4 linked regions of the Homo sapiens genome follow. The protein of the gene in region 4 purifies or fractionates together with the protein of the main gene of each other region. This does not show direct contact. Each region holds a gene or a part of one and is shown on either strand. Other genes may lie near its edges.

Region 1 (4,027 bases), on a different chromosome or scaffold from region 4:
ACCCCCCATCTCGACACATTACAAAAAGAAGTTATTAACGTCTAAACCTTAGGTTGAAATAACTATTGTTCTACTTTTCTTTTTCTCCCAACTAGGTATTTCTAATTCTCCTACCGGATACACACAAACTAATAGTTAATATAGCGCAAAGATAAAGATACACACACCGAACTAAACGCTGAAGAGGCTAACGGAATTGCTTTCAACTAGATTTAAACAGAAATATTAAATCCTCATAAGAAAAAAAAAAACAGCCTCAAAGAGAACCGGTCAGTGAAAGTGCAGAGTGGCTGGAGCAGGCGGCCTGGGGGAGGGGCGAGGCCTGGCGCTGCGCGATTCCGCATGGAAGAGTGACCTCTGGAGGCACCGGGCGGGCAGCGGCGCCGCGGGCTCCCCGCGACCGCCTCGCCCGCCCGCCCGCCTCTCCCGGACTCCGGGACCCGCTGCTGCGCGAGGTCCTAGCCCGGCTCCTTCCGGCACCACCTGGCGCCTCCCGAGCCGGCATCGATGCAAAGATGCCGCCGCCAGTACTTCATCAGCAAATACAACAATTTACATTAAAAATATAATCCATGCAAGAGCAGACTACATGGAAGGAGGCAGAGCTAAGTAACTTCTCCGTATGAGCGGTGTTGAAAGTGCCTTCTAGCATCATACAAACATTTGTTTAAACCGATTTGTAACCGACGTTTTCGCCCTTTTCATGAAGGGATTCTTGGTTAACATGTTAGTGAATTTGAAATTTGACACTTTTAAGAGAATGGACACACTCCTTTAAGACGTGATTTCTAAATCAATCCCCCATTTCTTTTCTCCTAAAACCAGGCCCAACTTGCTCAACTTCAATTAGGCCATTGATTTTGCTTCTGATCTCAAACGTTTTCTCCAGAAACCAGCTAATGTCTGCATACTTCTTCTCCAAGTTTCCCGAGACTACAATTCCAAGATTCTGTAAAATATGTTTTGGCTGTGATTCGAAATAAGGGGATACACAGTACTGAATACCCAGATGACTACGAGTTATGACCACACAGATTTAGGGATGGATGGGATTTTCTAAATTCTGAATGCACTCTGGTGGCCCAAACTGAAAGTTACTCTCCACAAGGCCTGGCTCGCTCCCGGCTGTAGAGTCCGGTAAGAGCAAATCTGATCCTAAGGATCCCATTCCTACCAGGGTCCCGAGGGAGAAGGCTTCAGGAGCAGTGTCGACTGGGCAGGGCCCTAAGCTTTTATAGGAAGTGCATTACAATCAGGTCGGCCATCGAGACCGCATACTCCGGGGCTACCGGCTTATGAACGAAGCGGGAGGCCGAGGTGCGGCGGGCCCTCAGGGAGAAGCCTAAGGCCCGTCTCCCCGGCGCGGAGGAAAGGGCTCGACGCCCGAGTTCTCCTGCGAAGCAGGCGAGCTCCCCGCGCACCCTCGGGCTGGCGGCGCGGTGCCAAGGCGCCCCGGCTCCAGGGCTCTGCGGGCAGCGTAGCGACTCCAGGCTCCCCTCTCCAGAACGCGCTTCGCTGCCAGCGTCCTGCCACCCCGGTCGCCCGCCCGCGGGCCCCGGACCACGCCGCCCGCGCTCCCCGCGAATGCAGCATCTCCGCCTCTCTCCAGAGCCCACCAGTCCCCGCGTGCCGGCCAGCCTAGATTGTGGCCATGTCCTTCGTCCTCGAAAACAGGAGAGGGTCAGGTATCGCCATCGGACACCTTCCCGGACTTGACACCCGAGCCGATAGTAGCTTTTAGCGCCTGGGAGCGTTCGGGGGAGGAAAGGCGGAGAGACCGTCCGTTCCAGCGGGGCTCGGGTTGGAAAGCCGAGCGAGGAGTCTCCACCTAGTGAAATGGGGCGGGGGTTGGGGGTGGGGGACGGGGAACCGAGGTTCCAGAAACAGGCTCCGAGGCCCCGCGGACTGACCCCTCCTCCCGCCCGGACGGCGCGGCGGACCCCGGGGCGGGGACATAGGGGGATCGCGGACGCCACTTACTTGGAGTTCGAGGAATTCCAATAGATAGGCTCTAAAACTATCGATTTGGAAATCGCAGTTCTGCATAAAACCATCAAAACACCCCAGCAGTACTTCCACACGGAGTCCCTTCTCACAGCCATGGCGAAGCCACTCCCAGCTCCGCGCACTCCGGGCCAAGAAGGGACTGACGGGACGCAGGCTGGGACCCCCAATCCTCCGGGGCAGACTGGCGGGGAAGACGGCGTGCGCCCGCAGGCAGCTCCGAGGCGCGCTGCGCAGCTCCAGCGGTCGCCGGGCCAGGTGCGCTCGCTCTCCGGGGCCCTCAGGGCGCGGGGCGGGAGCGCACGCGCGGGGCGCGGCGGCGCGGCGGACTCGGGGTTCCGGGGCGCCGCGCCGGACGCAGCTCGGACGGCCGACTCCCGTGCGGCTCCAGGGTGCCGGGCCGGCCGCGGCTGGCGGGTGGGCGCGGGGCGGGTGCGGGCTGGGACACAAAGACCCGGAGCGGAGACGACCGGCGCGGGCGGCGGGCGCTGCGCCCCGAGCGGGGCCGCCTGTGACTATAGATCCAGTGCAGCGGGCAGCGGCCCGAGCGCGCGGGCGCCGCGTCGGCGCGGTTCCATGTCCCGGAGCACGGAGCGGAGTAGGGCGCCTCCGGGCGCGCAGGAGCCTTCTCAGTCCGCGCGGCTCCCGGCCCCCAGGGCAGGAAAGAGGGAGCTCGGTCCCCGCCGCGGGCTCCGGACGCGCGCGGGCCTTTGTGTGCGGGGAGGGCGCCGGGACCCGCTGCGTGCGCAGCTCCTCGCTCCGGCCGGCGCCGCGGTCCCCGCCGAGGAGAGTCAGCGCGGCCGCCGCGCTGTCAGAGCGCTATAAACGCGGGGCCCCGCCCCGCCGCGCGAAGCCCATTGGCCCGCGGCTCCGCGGCCGCGCGCTGGTTGGACGGCCGGTCCGTCCGTCCGCCATCCCCTCCCGACATTGGGTGCCGCGAGGCGGGGCTCGGGCTGACAGGTGAGCCCCGCCCCTGGCTCCCGCGGGCGGCGGGAGCGGAGCAGAAGCCGGGCAGGAGAAGCGCTCAGCGCGTGCACAGGGCGCCCCCGGGGCGGCGAGAGGCCTTCTGGGCGCGGTGCAGACGTGGAAACAGCGACGGCCGAGTAGCGGGCCACCTGTCTCCGCGCCCGGGGGCGCCTTCCCCCTCGGCGGAATCAGAGGGCGCGGCTTTCCCTCGAGCAGTGCGGAAGGCAGCAGGCTCCGCTCGGCGTCCCTTCTCCGCAGATGCGGCGCTGCCCCGCGTGCAAGACTTGCACTCCGCGCGCACCCTTAGAGCTCCCGGCTTCTGCGCGCTTCTCCCGACGCCTCTCGGCGAGGGCTTCTCACTTGATTTTGGTACCAATCGCCTACGGCTCAGTTTCAGTCAGTGGGGCCGGGAATTGCAAGACGATTCCTGCGACGCGGCGCCGGAATTTGCAGCTCTAATCAGGGCCTGAGCATCGTCGCCTCCCGCCTTCTCTGCGGGCGTCTCCCTTCCCTCCTGGCCCCCCGGGAAGGTGGCGCCCCTGGAGCTTTCCCCGCGTGTCGCCGGCACAGGCACGACGCGGGGACCGTCTCACTAGCCTCTAGGAGACACGCGCGCTTCCCAAAGTGACCAGAGATTTAGAGGGTGTGAGATGGAAAAGTCAAGGCATGTGCTTCTCACTCGGCGTCTGCAAGACCCCAGAGCAGAGCTGGCAGGAACTCCTCGCTACTTTCCCGGTCGAGCGCCGGTGCTGACGCTCGTCCGTGACTTCCACGGAGCCACAGCGCCCACTAGCGGCCAGCTTTGCTTCTCCGCATCTCGAGCGCTCTGCGGTCCACCGACCCGGATCCAGCATACTGCAGCATCTAATCAAGTCACAGTTCCAAGGAAAATCTTTTTATATGTCCAACAGTAGGAAGAACACGGTAGAAATAAGGCACAGTGCAAATGTACGATTCAGTATGAAAAATTAAAATATACTGTATGCCCACGTTTTTTTTCAATTTAATGCCGTCCACCCCAGGATTTATGTTTCAAACACAAACTGGGCAGTAATTC
Region 2 (3,500 bases), on a different chromosome or scaffold from region 4:
GAGTTTCTGACGCCGCGTGTCGGGAGGCGGCCACGCCGCGAAGATCCGAGTTTCTGACGCTGCGCGACGGGAGGCGGCCACACCAGGAAGATCCGACATCGCATAACCGGATGTAGCCACGCCGGGAAACCGGACGCAGCTGCGCGGGGAAGGTCTAAGTATTTTCCAAAGGAGGCAAAAGGCAAAGTCAGCACATCCAGGCCCAAAGCTTCCACACAGCAAAGGGAAGAATGAGCAGAGTACAGCCGCAGGGACAGCCCGCGGGTACGGGATGGGAGACTGTATCTTAGAACCGCCGCCTGACAAGGATTAATCACTGGAATATATGAGGAGCTCAGGCTCAATAGCAGACAATCTAATAATCCAATTAAAAATGGGTAAAAGACCTGAACAGACAGCTCTCAAAAGACAGCATGGAAATGACAAACAGGCGTCTGAAAAGGTGCCCACCACCACCGCTCCTCAGAGAAATGCACATAGAAACAAGTGAGACATCCTCTGACCCCAGTTAAAATGGCTGCGGAAACAAGTCCCGGCGCGGATGTGGAGACAAGGGAACCCTCACGCTGCTGGTGGGAATGTAAATGAGCACCGCTGGGAGAACAGTCTGGAGGTCCCTCCAAAACTAAAAATAGAGCCCCATACAGCCCGGCAATCCCACTTCTGGGCAAATACCCAAAAGAGAGGAATTCAGCTATGGGGGAGAGCTGCACGCGCACGCCGAATGCCCCACTGTTCCGACAGCCAAGGTGTGGAAGCAACCGGGGTGTCCACGGACAGATGAAGGGAGAAGGAAAACGTGGAGCGCACGCAGTGGAATATTATCCGGCCACAAAAGAAATGAGATCCAGTCATTGGATCAACATGGAGGGAAGTGGAGGTCGCTATGTTAAGTGAAATAAGTCAGGCACAGAAGGGCAAATTCCGCACATTCTCATTTGTGGGAACTAAAAATAAAAATAATTCAACTCATGGAGATAGAGCAGAAGGATGGCTCCCAGAGGCTCGGAAGAGGAATGGGGCCGGGGGAAGAGGTGGGGATGGTTAATGAGTACAAAAACAGAATGAGTAAGATTTAGTATTTGATAGCACAACAGGGTGACTATGGTCAACAATAATTTATCACACATTTAAACATAACGAAAAGTATCACTGAATTATTTGTAACACAAAGAAAGTGTAAGTGTTTGAAGTGACGGGGACCCCATTTCCCCAATGTGATTTACACACACTGCATGCCTGTATCACAGTATCACACATGCCTTATATACACCTATGTGTACCCACAAAAATTAAAAATACAAATTTTATTAAAAAAAAGAACAACGTCATTATATTCACCAACAACAAAACAAAACAAAAAAAAAAAAAAGAAAAAAAAAAGCAAATCGTTACATTCCAAGTGTGAGATGGACCAGCGGATTTTAATGCACTGAGCGTGGAAGGCTCTGTGGTGTGTGGCCTCAGGCCCTGTGCTGTGAGTGACCTTCAAGGGACGGCCTGTGTCGCTGTTGGCGTGGTATTGAAGAAGTCCCACGCCTATCTGAAAAGGCTACTAAAATACTCTTCTTTTGTCCAACTACACTTGAAGCCACAGGCGAGGCCAGATTATTTTCCACGTATTTCAGCCAGAGCCATACACATCATGACTGACTGTATGGAAGATGTGAAAGTCCAGTGTCTTCCATCAAGCTACACATTTAAGACATTTGCAAAAATCGTTCTTGCAGATGATTTTGTTTTGGAAAGTATTTTTCAAAAACACAAGCCATCTGTGTCAATATATACTGGGCTTACTATTGTTATTTTAAACAACTAACAAGTATTCTAGAATACTCTCAGTTTTGATTTCTGTTAGAGGAAATGTCAGCAGCTATCACCACAAAGACAGCCGCTCTCAGGGTTTGCCAAGAACTCAAGAGTGTGCCAGGCCGGAGCTGAGGCCCCTCCTGTGCCCCAGGGCCCTGTGGCCGGTCACACGGCTCAGCTACAGATGCCCGTGGCAGGCGCCGAAAGCAGGCATCGGAACGAAGGCCAAGCCGTCGGAGTCTCACCTAAAATTGCATCCTGGATGGCCCTCTCTGGATCGTCAAGGTGAACCAGCAACTCTCGGTACAGGTACTGGACACTGCTCTGATAGTAGGATTTTGCGTTGGCACCCTTGACACACTGCAGCCAGGTGACCAAGGTGGAGGCGGCTGCCATCCTCACATCGTTGGACACGTCATCTAGGCGTTTTAAGAGTTCTGGAAGGAGGGAGCGAGACAGGTGTGTGAGTCTAGAGCAGACATTTCACGTCTAAACGTCCACAAAGGCATTTAGTTCATACTCCCATGGGACACCTGCCCTGGGGTCCTAAGAAACCCACACCTCACGGGAGACTCCGTGCATCCCGAGCCACATGCAAGGTGCTCCTGGCGACCTGGGACCCCTGAACCCCAGCCAACAGAGTGGAGGCGGCCCAGGCCCTGCTGCGGCCCCTGTAATAACCTGTCCTGCAGGCGCAGAGCCTCCCTGTAGCTGTAGCTGTGTGCTCACCTGGTCCTCCACCTCCTCGCAGCTGTGTGCTCACCTGGCCCTCCACCTCCTGCTCCCAGATGCTCAGATCCCCGAGCTGGCCACCCTGCCCAGCTCTGACCCTGCCCTCCCACCAGAGCTGAGGACTCAGTGACAGACAACCCCCTACTGTGGTCAGTTTTCTGCTGCTGAAAACAGAAGGATGATCCTTCCCGATGGGTAGAAACTTATGAGGTTAATGGACATAATTTTTATCAAATTTATGCTTTTTTTACATCATCTTAAAAAAACTTTGGCACCCCCTTCTGTGCAGCATCCGGAAATTCGCAGATGACTGAGTCGCAAAACCACCCGGAGGCCCATCTTCCCGACGCTGGGAGGGGCAGCTGCCCATGCCTGGCATGAGGCCCATCTTCCCGACGCTGGGAGGGGCGGCTGCCCGCGCCTGGCACCAGGCCCATCTTCCCGCTGCAGACGCGAGGGTGGGCTGGGTCTCTGATGCTTTTGCAATGTGGAGGGCATGATCCACCCTCAGCAAGAGGATCCTATGTAACGAAAGGCATGAAAAACATCCAAAGTTCAGGCCATCCTACCAAGCCAGGCTTTGAGACAAGTGGGACCCAGTGGGTTAATTCCTGGCAGATGCCCAGGCACTTCCCTGAGGGTTCTGGGCCCTGAGGGTGCTGGGCCTTCCAGCCACCAAACACAGGCACCAAGGAGGAAGCCACGGAGCACATCCAGGCATTATGGTGCCAAACCCTGAAGCAGCCCTGCACGGCAGGTGCCCTCACTGCACAGCGGGTATGCTCACTGCACAGCGGGAGCCCTCGCTGCATGGGGGGTGCTTTTGCTGCATGGGGGGTATGCTCACTGCACGGCAGGTGCCCTCACTGCACAGGGGGTATGCTCACTGCACGGCGGGAGCCCTCGCTGCACAGTGGGTGCCCTCGCTGCACGTGTCTCAGGAGGAAGGACGGAGTCAG
Region 3 (4,274 bases), on a different chromosome or scaffold from region 4:
GGTCACTCACCGGGTGGGCTGCTGCTGCATTTTAGGGGTAAAGCCAAGCCCAGCGAGAATGACTGATGCCCTAGTAGAGAAGAAATCGAAGAACTCAGTTGGAACAGTCCACAGAAGGGAAAGGAAATCTGAAGGAGGGAGGGGGAGCTTTAAATACCTGGCAGGTGCCTTGTCAGCCTCAATCTCCTCCAGTTTGGCATAGATTTCTGCCAGCTCTGCAGCTTCAGAGCCCTCCGCCCTGGAGGGAGGAGAAACAGCAATTGGCCTAAGCAGGGGCAGTCTAGGAGGATGTCCTGCACCCTATACCGTTGGAAAGGCCATTGGCTACCTTGTGGCTGGAAGAGGAAGAGAATACAGGAAGGGTTTGCACAGTGCTCATTACCTTGGGCACTATGGAAATGGGCACTGTGGAAAGAACAAGAAAGGGCAATGGGCACTGTGGAAAGAACAAGGGCTTCTGAGTCCCAGAGTGCCAAGTTCTAAGCTCTGCTGATTACTAGGATGTACATGCAAATTATGGATTGTTCCAGGACGGCAGGCGCTCTGTAAGCGACAGCGGCTGCTAGTTACTCCCTAGCCGGGAGTCCTCACCTGCCAGCAGCAATCTGGGCAGTGAGCTCCCGCTCCCTCCGTAGCAAATCCTCTCGCACACTGTCACTCTCCAGCACACTCTGCAGGGCAGGAGTGTCATCTCCAGCAACCTCTTGCTCAACGTGCAGCAGGGAAATGTGGGCTGGAACCCGCAGACTCCGGGTGGCCAGCATCTTCAGTAACGTTGTCTTCCCCAACCCATTCCGCCCCACCAGCCCGTAACGGCGGCCCCATGCCAGGTTCACATCCGCTCCAGCCAGCAGTACTCTGCAGGAGTGGAGAAAGGAGACCAAAGATGCTCTAGAAATAGGTGCACAGCAAGTTTAATGACAAACCTAACATTGTTTATAGCCCCGTTTCACCTCTCCAAATTGTCCTCTAATTAGAAAAAGAAAGCCAACCCCTGCCACCACTATTCCCTCACCTATCGCCAAAAGACACATCAAAGTTCTCAATTCGCACATCATAGGATTTGTTCTTGCCAGATGATTCCAACCGACTCTCCTTTCTGCTGCCTGCCTGGCTGGCTGATGCCTCTTCTAAGACTCTTTAAAGGGAGAAATGGACAGCTCTTAGTGCTCCCCACCACCTTCTGTCCAGGCAAAAGCTGCTCTGCTCTCTTCTGAGCCATGCTTCCCCCACTCACAGAGGGTTGCTGGTCTTGAGCGTGTCCTTCTCTGAGCGCTTCTCCTGCTTTGCCTTAAGTCGAGCCTCGGCCTTCTCTAACTTCTTTGCATTCACTGTCTAAGGGTCCAAACACATCGACTTCACTCTCGGGTGTAGGCTCAGAAAGGAACCCCAAGAGAGAACATCTCGAGTAAACCCTCTTAACTTACCCATGATGAACAGACTCAAAGGCTCAGGAAAAGACATAGTCAGAAATCCCCCCAAAAGATACTCCAATTAGACAGTCAACTCCCAACCCCATCACAGACAGTCCCCTCCCTTGCTTCCTCCTCCTCACCGAGGACTGTTCCCTCTTTAGCAGTCCTGGAAGTTTGGTTCCACAGTCTGTAAGCGATAAGAAAAGCAGTCACCTTCTCCCTGAGGGAAGGGAAACTAACATTTTGAGTGACTAATAGGAACCAGGCACAGACACAGATGTTTTCTACAAAACCTTATAATACTGCAGATAGATGGCTATTATCTTCCCTGCACTAAAAACAAAACAAAACAAAACAAAACAAAACTCACGTAGAAGGATACAGAGGCATAGACAAGGCTGGGGACAGATAACCAACTCTTACAAGATCATGCAGCTGGTTAGCAAGTTGCAAAACTGGGGGTGAAAGCAAGTCTGTCCAGCTCCAGGCTCTTATGCTTCCTATCCTACCCAAGAGCTTGGAGGGAGAACCCTCCAACCTCCTCCCCACCCCCATCATGGGCTCTTCTGCCCTCGGTAAAGACATCAACTAGCTCCTACAACCTTGTCCTGTGGAAAAGACGTAGGAGCCCTAAGCTGCAGGCAGCAGATGGTTGGGGGCGGAGAAAAGCACAGGGGGGCAGTTAGTTCAACCTCCCCTCACTCTCACCGTAGTTCTCCGTTATCTTTGACAACTGGATAGGGGCGTCCAGTAGCACCTGGCTATTTCCCTGGCTTTGTGGCTCAGCCCTATGTGGGTAGGGATAGAAAGCGCAGAGTTAGGAGTTGAGGGAAAAGCTCTATGGCCATCAGATCTTCCTCCCCCACCTCTTGTCTCCGGACCGTTCGCCGTCCCTTCGCCCCCATCAACCCCTACTCCCTGGCACATACAGACGCAGAGTGTTGTACATGCGCTGGCACACGGCCCTGATGCCCGCGTCATCCTTGCTGTCCCCGGACACCTCTTGCAATAGTTCCCCTACAGCTTCCACCAGGTCATCCACAGACTCGAAGTCCGCGCTGCCGCTGTGCAAGACGCCTGGGCAGGGCGTGGTAGAACGAGGAAGGTATCGGGTAGGGTGGACACACAAGCAGTTTCAGACCCCAGACAGAGGCCCCAGTCCAGGCTCCAGACCCAACCAGCCCCCGGGACAAGAGGTCATGCAGAGGAGAGGCCTGGCAACAGTCCCGGGCACGACGCTCGCTTAGACTTTCCCCCGGCCTCCACTTCGGTCTCCCCAGCCGGCCGATTCAGTTCTGCTTACCGGTCACGTAGTCGAAGACTTGTCCGTCAATTTCGGGGAACTCGCTCCGCAGGATTTCGGCGCAAGTCGCCATGTTCCACTCAGGAACCCGTCCGCGCAGTCGCTGTGAGACCCCGGCCTAGGCCCGCCCCCCGCCCTGCCCCCGAAATCTCGCCCTTCCTTGCAAGGCGCATGTGTAGCGGTGACGCAGGAAAGGAGCGGAGTGCGCAGAGCCCGGTGGGCGGGGCGAGCGGGGCCTTGAGGAGAGGCGCCGAGTCTGCGCCGGAGCCGCGCTCTCTGCGCGTGCGCGACACCTTTTCCGCTGAAAGATTAGCCACATGTGCGGTTCTCGCTGCCTTCTGGGAGGTGGAGTTCCGGGAGCGAGGGGTGGGGCAAAGGCTGGGAGCTCAAGGTTTATCGGGGCCGCGAGGCACCCGTGGTCTGGCGGGTGGGAGCCTCCCAAGAGGCAGGCGGCTGATAAAGCACTTTGGCTTTGCCAGGTTTTATGCGCTCCCTCGAGGCGCGTCTGCTGCTGGTGCGTACCCAGTCAGGCCCATTTTGGAGCCTGCCCAGAGCTTTGCTGACTCACCCCGGTCCCTGACTCTCAGAAGCCCCCTGCTCAGTGCTTTGCTTTCGCGGGTCCCCAGACCCTACGGGCTTCTCAGCCTGGTGGCCAGCGCCACCCGCCTCCCCGCCGCGACCGCCTTTTCACTGTGTAATTCAGCCGACCTTTGTGAATTAAGCCCATTCAGTTCTTCCACCACCCCAGGGCACGACCAAATCCACCGCCAAAGGGCAAGAAAACCAGGACAACGTGGCCTGTATAAATTATTCCCTACCTACACCCTGAGCAGACTTCTCTGCACTCAATAAATGCCAATAAAAGGCTATTTCCTTTCACCGATTCCCTCGGGAAGTTAGGAATTTCCTCCAAAATGATGCTACTGCTTTATATTTAACGTGAATATTCCTCCAATTGGTCTCTAAAAGTGGCACCGAAAATTACATTATTACCCATTCATCCCTTTGGATTAAACATTGCCATCATGAGGCATCAATCCCGATATTGAACCATTTTACAGGAAATACAGGTAAAGAGGAATATGTTAAGTGACTTCATGGGGACAACAGGCAAATTCTGATGTGGTAAACTACAGAACTCTGGTTTCTTCCACAAAATTGCAAGACCTGAAGGGAAACATCAATTTTTAAAATTTGAGGAGCATTAACCAACCACAATGGACCTTATCTGGAAAAATTTGATAAGACACCTGGTTAAGTGAACACAAACTGGATGTGATATTAAGGAACTGGCCACGCATTGATCATAGTTGAAGCTGGGTGATGAGACATGGAGATTCATTATATTCTTTTTTTTTTTTTTTTTAATTTGAGAAGGAGTTTCGCTCTTGTTGCCCAGGCTGGAGTACAGTGGCGTGATCTTGGCTCACCGCAGCCTCCACCTCCTGGGTTCGAGCGATTCTCCTGCCTCAGCCCCCGAATAGCTGGGATTACCGGCATGCACCACCACGCCCGGCTAATTTTGTAATTTTAGTAGAGACGAGGTTTCCCCATGT
Region 4 (3,500 bases):
CTGTAATACCAGCACTTTGGGAGGCCAAGGCAGAAGGGCTGCTTGAGACCAGGAGTTCGAGACCAGCCTGGGCAACACAGCAAGATTCTGTCTCTTAAAAAAATTTAAAAATTAGCTGTTATGGTGGTGTGTGCCTGCAGTCTTAGCTATTGGGGAGGCTGAGGTGGGAATATTGTTCAAACCCTGGAGCTTGAGGTTATTTTTCATAAACGTAATTATTAAGAACTCAAAATCAACATCAAAATTACATTAGTCTGTTTTATAACAGATTTTTACTCTTTTTAGAAGTTAACGTACCATATCTCATCTATACAAAACCTTCCTGGCATAAGGAAGTTTTAGCTTGGACATTATAAAAGGAAGAGTGTTTCTTTCTTTTTTTTTTTTTTGAGACGGAATCTCGCTCTGTCACCCAGGCAGGAGTGCAATGGTGTGCAGTCTTGGCTCACTGCAACCTCTGCCTCCTGGGCTCAGACAATTCTCCTGCCTCAGCCTACCAAGTAGCTGGAACTACAGGAGTGTGCCACCACACTGGATAATTTTTGTATTTTTATTAGACACGGGGTTTCACTATGTTGGCCAGGCTGGTCTCGAACTCCTGACCTCGTGATCTGCCTGCCTCGGCCTTCCAAAGTGCTGGGATTACAGGTGGAAGAGTGTTTCTTAATATACCAAAACAAATCCCACCAAAACATCTTGTTATATTTTACTTCATCAACAATGTAAAAAGTGAGTGTCCAGAGTACCGAGTGCTGTTTACCGTGTAAGCACAACAAATGGTGCTATATACTAATATTTTAATATAATATTCTGTTATCATATGTTGTGATCTTTTATATGCCCCTCCTTCAAAAACATAAACCACAAAAATCCACCAAAAGCTACAAGAAGAATCCAATCCCTAACTAGATACTTGTGTGATTGTTAGGAATAGTAGTTTCAGAAATAACCTCTGCATCACGCCCTACATTCACTGAACTTTTTGGCACTGGCTCTTGGCCTGTCTTCCCCTCCAGCCTAAGTTCCACATATCCTAGGTGATGTCTACTTTTATGTGGATAACACATTCAACAGCCTCCTATTTCCTTGCCTTTATTTATGAATGAATGAACGAATGTGAAGGAACTTAACATTGAACAATCCACACAGGTTCAGAACACTCTTCTACCACAAGGTAAGAGCTACTTTGTGGTTAGTGAGAGTCACATAGAAAAAGTAACAGAAGACCCCCATCTATGACTGCTCCTTATATAAGGCACTATTAACTATACTTACTGGTCTAGGTAAGGCCAGGTTTGCTCCATACCAGTGATAAAGTGCTCTCCACACAGGTTCTGGGACCATTTCATAGTCTCTTCCATGAATCAGCTGTGGAGTTCGTTTTAATCGTCCTCCTTCTAGTGTTAATGATGTAGCCTGAGAAAGAATAGAATGACAATGTTGACTTTCAATATTACAAAAGTTTTTGGGTCTCAGCAATACCTAGAAACAGGAAAACAAACTCATATATCACCACCCAGTTTCATGTTGCTGGAAAAACTTAATTTTTTTTTTTTTTTTTTTTTTGAGACGGGGTCTTGTTCCGTCACCCAGGCTGGAGTACAGTGGCGCGATCTTCGCTTGCTGCAGCCTCCGCCTCCCGGGTTCCAGTGATTCTCCTGCCTCAGCCTCCCGAGTATCTGGGATTACAGGCACACGTCACCATGCCCGGCTAATTTTTGTATTTTTAGTAGAGACGGGGTTTCACCATGTTGGCCAGGCTGGTCTCAAACTCCTAACCTCAGGTGATCTGCCCACCTCAGCCTCCCAAAGTGCTAGGATTACAGGCATGAGCCACCACGTCCAGCAAAAAAACTGAATTTTTAATGAGAGATTTTTATTTTTGACTTTCAAAATAAACTATGTAAGAAATGAAACTCAAAGCATATCATTTGGAAAAATCACTAAAGCACTTGAAATAACTTCACAGATTTCTTTCAAACAATAAAAAATACTAGTTTGGAAAAAAAAATTCATACATAGCGTATGTGAAACAACATTTTCAGAATAGCTGTCCTAAGTAAGAATAACAATAATGCCAAGGGTTACTAAACTACTTCTATGTAAGTTCTAAATCATAAATATTCTCACAGAAATGTACTATACAAAGAGATGTCCATCTATAATACAGTAATTAAATGAACCATCAATGTTTTGCTATGTGCTAAAACCTCTGAAATGAAATTTATTAATAGCTTGCAAGAGAATAATTTTAAGTTTAGATGTAAAATTACTTACCTTTACTGGTTCTTGAGTTACTAATGGCTGATTATCAATAGCCCCTGGTTTCTGAGGGTTAAGGTGCAACAAAATATTCCCATTGGCTCCCAGCAAACACTGGTTGTTATTGTCAGAAGTGTTATGTTGTCGAGCAAAGCAAACATCTGCCCCTGGTGTGGCAGAATACAGAAAGCCTATAAAAAAAAAAGAGGATAGAATCTCTTATTTTTAGTTATTATACATAAACAGGCTTGAGGATATGAACTCAATGCCCATGTATTGTATTACTCTGTTGACATGTCAGTACAGATTAAGATTCTGGTAATTCTGTAGAAGACAGGAAATGTTATCCTTCTCTGAACAATACATGGCATGGTACTAAAAATAAGAGCTTTTAAAATTATTACCAAATGAACATTTGGCCACCCTCCTAGAATATCTAATAATTCATAATGAGAATTATATGTCCTCCGACTGGAAGGGAAGAGCTGGGCTAAGTGGCTGGGCTTCTACATAGCATCCTTTAATTATTTTCCTCAAACTAGAAAAATATTCCAAATGTTCTTGGTAGATAATGGTGATATGAAGTCACTAAATTAAAAGAAAACTAAAACAAGAACTCCAACAAAAGAGTAATGGGGGCTAGATCCTATTGTATCTATGAACTCAATGTCCACAAGTTCTTTTGAAAGAAATACATGATCTTTACAATACGAAAATATGCACAGAAGATGATTAACCATGGCTTAGAGTTGTGAGCCTCAGTGGTATTTTAAGCCATTTCAACTCTCAACTACATGCTAATCTTTGGTAAACAATCTAGCAGTCATCACTTTGTAACCTTCTGCCTGTGGTATGCAGCCTTTGGGTGTCACAAGTTATATGGTAAGCACATACCAAACAGGATCTTTAGATGGGGTTAAGAAATAATCCTCATGTTAAAGCTGATGACAGCACTTCTAGGACTGCTAAGTGATCTTTGTAATACCAGAAAGGGAGGGAAGAAGCAGATTCTACAAGGAGCTTTGTGAAGAAAATGCTAGCTCTGTCCAATTTGCTTACACCTTCCACAGAAAAGGAAAAGAACATCTTGGAAGAAATAATAACACACGCCAGGAGGAATGGCTCATGCCTGTAATCTCAGCACTTTGGGAGGCCAAGGCTGGAGGACTGCTTGAAGCCAGAAGACTGCAACCAGCACAGGCAACATGAGACCTCGTCTCTACAAAACAATTAAAAAA

What was found. The genes of interacting proteins can lie anywhere in the genome.
Region 1: the proteins of USP32 (region 4) and EFNB2 purify together in Homo sapiens (co-immunoprecipitation; one large-scale study listed by IntAct). This does not show direct contact.
Region 2: the proteins of USP32 (region 4) and DNAAF5 purify together in Homo sapiens (affinity purification with mass spectrometry; one large-scale study listed by BioGRID and IntAct). This does not show direct contact.
Region 3: the proteins of USP32 (region 4) and ABCF3 purify together in Homo sapiens (affinity purification with mass spectrometry; one large-scale study listed by BioGRID and IntAct). This does not show direct contact.

The regions. Positions count from the first base shown.
Region 1 is NC_000013.11:106,532,863-106,536,889, forward strand, and holds the start of EFNB2 (ephrin-B2 isoform 1 precursor), read right to left. Parts: upstream 2,801-4,027; 5' UTR 2,103-2,800; coding exon 1,981-2,102; intron 1-1,980. UniProt on the Homo sapiens protein: Cell surface transmembrane ligand for Eph receptors, a family of receptor tyrosine kinases which are crucial for migration, repulsion and adhesion during neuronal, vascular and epithelial development.
Region 2 is NC_000007.14:778,699-782,198, reverse strand, and holds part of DNAAF5 (dynein axonemal assembly factor 5), read right to left. Parts: intron 2,247-3,500; coding exon 2,055-2,246; intron 1-2,054. UniProt on the Homo sapiens protein: Cytoplasmic protein involved in the delivery of the dynein machinery to the motile cilium.
Region 3 is NC_000003.12:184,184,725-184,188,998, reverse strand, and holds the start of ABCF3 (ATP-binding cassette sub-family F member 3), read right to left. Parts: upstream 2,801-4,274; 5' UTR 2,792-2,800; coding exon 2,719-2,791; intron 2,493-2,718; coding exon 2,345-2,492; intron 2,205-2,344; exon of another isoform or gene 2,204-2,204; coding exon 2,124-2,203; intron 1,636-2,123; exon of another isoform or gene 1,603-1,635; coding exon 1,556-1,602; intron 1,336-1,555; coding exon 1,238-1,335; intron 1,139-1,237; coding exon 1,016-1,138; intron 859-1,015; coding exon 592-858; intron 336-591; coding exon of another isoform or gene 329-335; intron 239-328; coding exon 158-238; intron 71-157; coding exon 11-70; intron 1-10.
Region 4 is NC_000017.11:60,221,134-60,224,633, forward strand, and holds part of USP32 (ubiquitin carboxyl-terminal hydrolase 32), read right to left. Parts: intron 2,454-3,500; coding exon 2,278-2,453; intron 1,417-2,277; coding exon 1,276-1,416; intron 1-1,275. UniProt on the Homo sapiens protein: Deubiquitinase that can remove conjugated ubiquitin from target proteins, such as RAB7A and LAMTOR1.